Linked DNA regions of Homo sapiens: regions 2 and 3 are each reported to be linked to region 1. Evidence: microRNA targets listed by miRTarBase, many of them from high-throughput screens and not tested one by one. Region 1 holds a microRNA gene; each other region holds the end of a gene's coding sequence.
What was found. Region 1 holds the annotated microRNA hsa-miR-1273h-5p (CUGGGAGGUCAAGGCUGCAGU, at 1,027-1,047, shown strand). A microRNA usually pairs through its seed, bases 2 to 8, with sites in the 3' UTR of a target mRNA and lowers its output. Matches are read on the target gene's strand: a 7mer-m8 pairs with bases 2 to 8, a 7mer-A1 pairs with bases 2 to 7 and ends in A, and an 8mer does both.

Region 2: miRTarBase lists TLN1 as a target of hsa-miR-1273h-5p. The part of its 3' UTR that is shown has no 7-base or 8-base seed match.
Region 3: the mRNA of INTS13 is a reported target of hsa-miR-1273h-5p. Seed matches in the 3' UTR shown: 8mer at 2,396-2,403.

Annotation. Positions count from the first base shown.
Region 1 is chr16:24,202,122-24,205,269 of GRCh38, forward strand. It overlaps MIR1273H (microRNA 1273h), which reads left to right and starts at 995; the gene lies at 995-1,110. All of the region lies in intron 16 of PRKCB (protein kinase C beta), which reads left to right.
Region 2 is chr9:35,694,988-35,697,987 of GRCh38, reverse strand. It overlaps TLN1 (talin 1), which reads left to right. Exons shown (of 57, transcript NM_006289.4): 57 at 72-1,040. The coding sequence ends at 197. Among named protein-coding and RNA genes, the nearest start is that of TPM2, 6.6 kb to the right of the region's middle.
Region 3 is chr12:26,902,897-26,905,896 of GRCh38, forward strand. It overlaps INTS13 (integrator complex subunit 13), which reads right to left. Exons shown (of 17, transcript NM_018164.3): 17 at 2,285-2,640. The coding sequence ends at 2,601. Among named protein-coding and RNA genes, the nearest start is that of INTS13, 34 kb to the right of the region's middle.

The DNA of each region.
Region 1 (3,148 bases):
CTGTCCTTTCTGACTCTATCCTGGCCTTCTCCTTTGTGCATAAACCTGCTATGTCTTTTTCATGTTAAAAATCCCCTACCTCAAACCTGGGAATCCTCCTTACTACTACTCTTACTACTGCTATGATTACTACCCTACCTTACTTTGCATACAAACACACTTTTGAAAGAGTTGCCAGTTCCTGCTATTTCCACTTGATGACAATTTATTGTTTCCTCAGTTTGGTGCAATCTGGCTTCTGCTCCCGCCATCCTATTGATATTTTTCTCATTGAGTCATCAATGACCTGAAAACTGCCTCTTCTCATAAGCTTGTCTCATCTTTCTTGACCTCACCATATTATTAGGTGCTCTAATCCTTTCTCCTTTAAAAAAATGTGAAAAAATAAAATATTCAAGCAGCATCAGAAGCTACAAAGTGAAATTAAGATTCCCCTCACCCATGGCTCCTAGCTAGGCTTCCTGGTTCTCCTTCCCAGAGACACCCATTGCAACCAGGTTCTTGTGTGACCTTCTAGAGAAGATGTGTTCAGGCCCAGAAATAGTCTACATCACACACAAGGATGTTAGCATGCTGTGTACAATTTCTGTATCTTGCATTATTCCCCTCTGTCTTGGAGATTGTTTCTTATCTGCTTATCTAACTCTACATCACCCTTTGAATAACTTCCTAGTTTCCTATATAAGTGAGTTTATCTGTAGGAAAAGTTCAGAGTGCCTTCTTTCTTTTTAAGCCCCTCTTCTCCTTCATTTTTATGACATTGTGTGTCTGTCTTAGTCTGTTTTGTGCTGCTATAAGAATACCTGAAACTGGGGCCTGGTGCAGTGGCTCATGCCTGTAATTCCAGCACTTTGGGAGGTTAACATGGGCAGATCACTTGAGCTTGAGCCCAGGAGTTTGAGACCAGCTTGGGGAACATGGCAAAATCTGTCTTTACACACACAAAAATTACAAAAATCAACCAGGTGGGGTGGCACATGCCTGTAGTCCCAGCTACTTGGGTGACTAAGGCAGGATTGCTTGAGCCTGGGAGGTCAAGGCTGCAGTGTCGTGGTCACAGCTTGCTGCAGACTCGACCTCCCAGGCTTAAGCAATCCTCCTGCTCGAGTGACAGAGTGAGACCCTGTCTCAAAAAAAAAAAAGTGGATAACTTACAATGAAAAGAAATTTATTTGGCTCATGGTTCTGGAGGGTGGGAAGTACAAGATCAGGGGCTGTATCTGGGGAGGACCTTCTTGCTGCATAGTAACCTGATAGAAGGCATCACATGGCAAGAGAACACATGAGGGAGGGTAACTTACTTTTTAAATAAATTCACTCCCACAATAATAACATCAATCCAGTCACCTCCAAAAGTTCCCACCTCTCAACACTGTTGCATTGGGGATTAAGTGTCCAGCACAAGAACTTTGGGAGAACACATTCAAACCATATCACCACATTTGCTGATGTTCTTCCTACCTTCACAGCCACTCCCAATAGAAATTCCAACTCCACAAAGACTTCCAGTGACAGTTGAATTTGGAGGGTTGAGACCAGCTCATGACCCAGAAAGGAAAACAGAAAGCTTACTTTTTGTTTTGTTACAAGTGCAGTCTCTTAAAAATAACCACAAAATGCCCCCCCAAATGGCATATGGAAAACAGCACAGAGATGGTGTGTTAATCTACCTGAAATGTCTTTCTAAGGAAGTGAGGCTTGGATGGGAACGGAAATGCATCCCTTTTTCTTCCCAGGGTACACGTCTTTTTCTCACTTCCTCTAACTGGGAGCCCCAGGGCCTGGCTTTGTCTTGTAGCTTCCTGCCGTGATGCACCAGGCTAAGTGGGAAGGTTTCTGTTCTATGTCTAAAGTAGCACTGGCAGGTCCTCATTCTGCTTGTAATTGGGATGGGAATATGGGTAGGAATTTAGGGTTTGGCAGAGCGTACAGGACCTCTTTCAAGCCAGAGCACAGCCCTGTCAGACTTACTCACTGGACATGAATGGGTCAGTCAGCCCTCAGCAGTAACCACCAGCTACCATGTTAAGTATTTGATGTGAATTTTATCAAGTCATTCTCGCCACACCCTACAAGAAACTTGAGCTTAGGGGACTTAGCTAACTTGCTTGAAGGTTGTATAGCTGGGAATTGTTGGAGCCAGGATTGGTACCCAGGTTAGCTTAACTTTTAAGTCCGTGCCACACAATCAGATACATAGTATGAGGCAATGGGATGTAATGGAAAGCCCATGGGCTTTGGAATTGAACAGATGGGCTCTGGATCTTGGCTCTCCTACTTGACCCTATATGACCCTGAACAAACTGTTAACTCTTAAAATTATCTGTTAAGTAGAGATAATCCTTTTCCTGCCTATCTCACAGCCTTGTGGGAATCAAAGCTATAAAAAGATAGGCAAATAGAAGGGATAATTACTATTTGAGGGTGAGTTTACTTGAAGCCAACAATGTGGGTTTAGGATGAATGGTGAAGAATAGATAAGAAAAAAAATGATATTCTGTTGACATGGGAAGATGTTTAGAGTGTATTTCATCTAGTTTCTTTTAAAAAGCAAGCAAAAGAACAGAGTCATGATTCCACCTTTGTCTAAAAACTAAAAAACATCCATTCATCTATTCATCCAGCCATCTAGGATACAAACCAAGATGTTAACATAATACAGAGATTTGGGGTGGCGGGATTAAGAAGGATTCTTTTGTGTGTTTTAAAATTTTTTATGGCCAGGCACAGAGGCTCATGCCTGTAATCCTAGCACTTTGGGAGGCCAAGGCGTGCAGATCACGAGGTCAGGAGTTCGAGACCAGCCTAGCCAACATAGTGAAACCCCGTCTCTACTAAAAATACAAAAATTAGCTGGGCATGGTGATGGGTGCCTGTAGTCCCAGCTACTTGGGAGGCTGAGGCAGGAGAATCGCTTGAACCCGGGAGGTGGAGGTTGCAGTGAGCCGAGATCGTGCCACTGCACACCAGCCTGGGCGACAAAGTGAGACTTCATCTCAAAAAAAAAATTATTATTATAATTCCTTTTTTTTTTTTTTTTTTTTTTAGAGACAGGGTCTTACTCTGTTACCCAGGCTGAAGTGAAGTGGAACAGTCATAGCTCACTGCAGCCTCCAGTTCCTGGGCTCAAGGGATTCCCCGTGCCTCA
Region 2 (3,000 bases), not on the chromosome of region 1:
CGCTGGTCCCAACTACCCTATGCCCCTGCTGTGCATCCTCACTGAACTAAGTCCCCGATCTCCACCCTCAGATCATCGCAGCACAGGAAGAAATGCTTCGGAAGGAACGAGAGCTGGAAGAGGCGCGGAAGAAACTGGCCCAGATCCGGCAGCAGCAGTACAAGTTTCTGCCTTCAGAGCTTCGAGATGAGCACTAAAGAAGCCTCTTCTATTTAATGCAGACCCGGCCCAGAGACTGTGCGTGCCACTACCAAAGCCTTCTGGGCTGTCGGGGCCCAACCTGCCCAACCCCAGCACTCCCCAAAGTGCCTGCCAAACCCCAGGGCCTGGCCCCGCCCAGTCCCGCAGTACATCCCCTGTCCCCTCCCCAACCCCAAGTGCCTTCATGCCCTAGGGCCCCCCAAGTGCCTGCCCCTCCCCAGAGTATTAACGCTCCAAGAGTATTATTAACGCTGCTGTACCTCGATCTGAATCTGCCGGGGCCCCAGCCCACTCCACCCTGCCAGCAGCTTCCGGCCAGTCCCCACAGCCTCATCAGCTCTCTTCACCGTTTTTTGATACTATCTTCCCCCACCCCCAGCTACCCATAGGGGCTGCAGAGTTATAAGCCCCAAACAGGTCATGCTCCAATAAAAATGATTCTACCTACAACCTCTGCCTGGCTTCAAGGGAGATACAAGTTTTCTCCCAGGGCAGTAGGAGAGACAGTGGGGTTGAATTCTGTCACCCAGCTTGATCCAGCTTGAAATGGGAGAGGGGAAGACTGGCAGTCTGCACCTGAGGTCCCTTCCTCCTTGCACCCGGACCCTAAAGTTATCCAATGGGGAAGTTGTGCCTGAGAAGTCATACTCCTGTTATCCTCACCTCCCTGGCCAGCACCTAAGCCTCACAAAGTGTCGTTCTGCTGCTGCTGGGACAGCAGCTACCACAGTTCCTTGTGGCTACCAGGACATTCTGTTCTTCATAGCTACTCAGGGTATGTCAACAAATCCAGTCCTTGACCAAATTCAAATTTTCAAAAGAAGCTTTGCTAAAAATAATATGCCTGTAAGTGTCTGAGCCTAAGAGAACTATGGCCACAAAACTGATTGAAGCCATTAGCAAGCAGAAAAATCCCAACTTGAGGCTGCCTCGGGTAGGCACCGCTCTTGATTGGGTTGGGACACTCCTGCCTAGGGTAGCGCTAAAAGTGAAGAGCTTGACCCAGGTGTGAGAATTTATTGTTAGAGGGGGCAGAGCTCCCCTAGTGGCCAGGAAGGTGCTAGCAGCCCTGTTCCAGCCACCCTGCTTATCTGGTGGGTCAGTGGAAAGAGGCAGTCAGAGAGGTGGATGCTGTGTGCTTCCACGTCCCCATCCAGCCACTCTGTCCATAATGCATGGACTCTCTGACAGTCGTCTTAGGTTGGCAACTATTTTCATGCGTGATTCTTTAGTCAGCCCTACCGCCCAGTACATTATTTCCTCAAGTAGAACACAAACGCCACCCATCTGCTACTAACACCTTCTACTCCCACCACATTAGGGAAAGCTTGAAGTAGATGGAATGTAGCTGGTAACGGTGGTTCGAGCCTCTAATCCCAGCTACTTAAAAGGCTGAGGCAGGAGGACTGCTTGAGACCAGGAGTTCAAGGCTGCAGTGAGCTATGATGGTGCCACTGTGCACCAGCCTGGGTGACGGAGTGAGAGCCCTTCTCTAAGAAAGTAGATGGAACTCTAGGACAGCCCATTAGGGATGGTGCCAACCTCCTACCATCACTCCTATCACCTGTGATTCATTCATTCAATATTTACTAAGCCATGCTTGTGCTAAGCACTGGAAAATTGAGATGTATTATCACTTCTCTGACGCAGAGGACTGGCAACTCCAGTACATACTGTGGGGGCTCCCTAATCCCAGATTCAATGTCATAGTATCAGTTGAGGACCTTGGAGATCAAATCCCTTCTATAACCTCCCCGACAAGTGGCAGTCTAGACTTTGAACTCCAGCTAGGAGCCCAGGACAGCTGCTTACTCCTGTTACCATTTCCTTGTCATGTCCTCAGGAACTGGGACCAATCACATACTTCTCACTAGTGATACCTTGGGAGCCATCTGGGGAGAGGCTTTAAAACCTATTAAACCAGCAGCTCTTCAAATGTGGTCCTCAGACCCCTAGGGTTCCCTAAGACCTTTTCAGGGGTCCATAGGTCAAAATTATTTTCATAAAAATACCAAGACATTATTTTCCTTAGCTGGGGATGGTGGTGCACACCTGTAATTCCCAGCTACTTGGGAGGCTGAGGCACCAGAATTGCTTGAACCTGTGATGCGGAGGTTGCAGTGAGCCAAGATCACGCCACTGCACTCCAGCCTGGGCAACAGAGCAAGACTCAAAAAAAATGTCCTTGATGAAGTAAAAAAAAAAAATTTTTTTTTTTTTTTGAGACGGAGTCTCGGTCTGTAGCCCAGGCTGGAGTGTAGTGGCGTGATCTCGGCTCACTGCAACCTCCACCTCCTGTGTCCCGGTTCAAGCAATTCTCCTGCCTCAGCCTCCCGAGAAGCTGGGATTACAGGCACATGCCATCATGCCCAGCTAATTTTTGTATTTTTAGTAGAGACAGGGTTTCACCATGTTGGCCAGACTGGTCTTGAACTCCTGACCTCATGATCTGCCTGCCTCAGGCTCCCAAAGTGCTGGGATTACAGGCGTGAGCCACCACGCCCAGCCTAAATGTATTAATTTAATTAAACCTTAATCCTTAAGGAAAAGGCTTTTCAACATTCTGTCTGATAAAGTGGGAAGTATGCATAAGACATTTTGCATACCAAAGTATGATGGTTTTCTGGAGGAAATAACTTAGGCCATTCTTTGAGTTGTGAGCTGAACTAGCTGCTCTTTTATGGAATGCCACGTTTACTCAAAAGAATGGCCGACAAACTGTGGTTATCAGATTTAGGTAGCTGGCAGAACTTTTCTAAAAAGGAACAAAGTGAGTCTGTCACTTCAGGGAAAAATCTG
Region 3 (3,000 bases), not on the chromosome of region 1:
ATGGGCAAAGACTTCATGACTAAAACATCAAAAGCAATGGAAACAAAAGTCAAAATTGACAAATGGGATCTAGTTAAACTAAAGAGCTTCTGCACAGCAAAAGAAACTATCATCAGAGTGAACAGGCAACCTACAGAATGGGAGAAAGTTTTTGCAATCTATCCATCGAACAAAGGGCTAATATACAGAATCTACAAGGAACTTAAAACAAATTTACAAGAAAAAAACAACCCCATCAAAAAGTGGGCGAAGAATATGAATAGACACTTCACAAAAGAAGACATTTGTGGCCAACAAACATACGAAAAAAAGCTCATCATCACTGGTCATTAGAGAAATGCAAATCAAAACCACAATGAGATCACATCTCATGCCAGTTAGAATGGCAATCATTAAAAAGTCAGGAAACAACAGATGTTGGAGAGGATGTGAAGAAATAGGAACGCTTTTACACTGTTGGTGGGAGGGTAAATTAGTTCAACCATTGTGGAAGACGGTGTGGCAATTCCTCAAGGATCTAGAACCAGAAATACCATTTGACTCAGCAATCCCATTACTGGGTATATACCCAAAGGATTACATATCATTCTACCATAAAGACACATGCACACGTATGTTCGTTGCAGCACTGTTCACAATAGCAAAGACTTGGAACCAATACAAATGCTCATCAATGTTAGACTGGATAAAGAAAATGTGGCACATATACACCATGGAATACTATGCAGCCATAAAAAAGGATGAGTTCATGTCCTTTGCAGGGACATGGATGAAGCCGGAAACCATCATTCTCAGTAAACTAACACAGGAACAGAAAACCAAATACTGCATGTTCTCACTCATAAGTAGGAGCTGAACAATGAGAACATATGGGCACAGAAAGGGGAACATCACACACTGGGGCCTGTCGGGGGGGTGGGGGAACAAGGGGAAGGATAAGATAAGGAGAAATACCTAATGTAGATGATGAGTTGATGGGTGCAGCAAACCACCATGGCACACGTATAGCTATGTAACAAACCTGCACGTTCTGTACATGTATCCCAGAACTTAAAGTATAATTTAAAAATAAATAAATAAAAGGTCAGAGCCCACTGAAAAGTAAATATGATCTATTAATTAGCTATTGGGTTATGGTTCCTTAAACCCCGAAAGTCTAAGATGTTAATTAGGCCTGGCCCTGCCTGTGTATGGTTTGTGTCAATGTATATCTAAACACAGTGGAATGGAGTAAAAGTAGCTCTATCTGAGGGAAGAGGACTGAGAATGAGACAGGAGTTGATAAAGGAGAGCAATGTCAATTTCACCAGGCTGACCTGGAAGGCTGCTGAACCCCTGTGTAAAGACCAGTTGTTTTTTTTTTTTTTTCAATAGAAAATACTGAGGGCCGGGTGCAGTGGCTCAGGCCTGTAATCCCAGCACTTTGGGAGGCCGAGGCAGGCAGATCATGAGGTCAGGAGATTGAGACTATCCTGGCTAACACGGTGAAACCCTGTCTCTACTAAAAATACAAAAAATTAGCCAGGCGTGGTGGTGGGCGCCTGTGGTCCCAGCTACTTGGGAGGCTGAGGCAGGAGAATGGTGTGAACCCGGGAGGCAGAAGTTGCAGTGAGCCAATATCGCGCCACTGCACTCCAGCCTGGGCGACAGTGCGAGACTTCGTCTCAAAAAAAAAAAAAAAAGAAAATACTGAGTCTGTATAAAGAGCTTCCTTTCTCTAATAAACACTCAAGGAAAAAAATGGCAAACTTACAATTAGCATTTAACATTGAAATAACCTACCTTTTGTAACATGTTATAAACTTCTAGATGAAGCAGCACAGGAAAAAGGCCCAAGAAACATATAACATGTAACCATGACATCTCTGAGAAATGAGACTAAGATTCTATCCAGAGATAAAATCAACCTAGTAACTTTTCTTTCTTCTAAATCTGTGAAGTAATTTCCTTTACGCTTCTCTTTCAATAAGAAAAGCAAATGGATGGAAAATATTTTGCAGAAAAATATAAAGAGTAAAACTACCCAATACTAGTAAATATAAAATTATACAACCTACCTGAAAGCTCTACTTTTAAATGGGTAAGAACACATATGCAAAATAACTTAAAACAAGATAAAAACAATGTTCTTTTTTAGAAAAGCACAATATATGATGCAGCTTAATAGGCAAAATTTTATATTAAGTATTGCAAATCTTAAACTCTCATCAAATTTTTAAAAATTCCTATAGGTTGTTTTCAGTCATTAAGTAACTAAAGTATCTTCTAAAGTAATTCTCCAATGTTTTGCATTTCAAATATTTTAATAGTTTTATTTCGCAAAGAGAAGCCTAAGAATTTTTTTAAAAACATTTCCAGAGAGAACACTTTATACCATAAAATAAACTTGTATAATTTGGGAGGACAAATCATCTCAAATGTATATTTTTGAATTATGTGCCAATTTTATAATTAGTACAAAAATGACAGCTGAAATATTTTAAAAATGTAAAAACCAGTCCAGGCAACATAACTATACCATCTTGCTGTAAAAGTACTTATATCGAATTCCGCACAAAATATTTTTGCAATATGCTAAATTTAGTTCTTCAAGTCACTCTTCACTGCCGGCTGGCTTTTCCATTTTCTGTTGTCTCCATCCTGAAATAGGAAGAAAAAAACGAGTTGATAAAATAAATATTCATTAACATTTTGTCTCCTTATCTACCTTTCACATGAAAATTAAAATAATATATTCACAGAACAGAACATCAGCATTTTAGGAAAGGACTAACATCAGGGTTCCTCTAGCTAGGCCAATTTCTTCATTTTACAGTGAAAATTGAGGCCTTGAGAGACTAAGTGACTTTCCCAAGGTTACAAGTCAAAGGCCACTGTTTTTTGTTTGTTTGTTTGACTATACCACACTCTCCCTTTCCAAGCAAAACTAAGGAAAAAATCTCTACAATTTCATCAAGAATTTATTTCCTTCCCCACTAAATAAATGTATTTCCACCAACA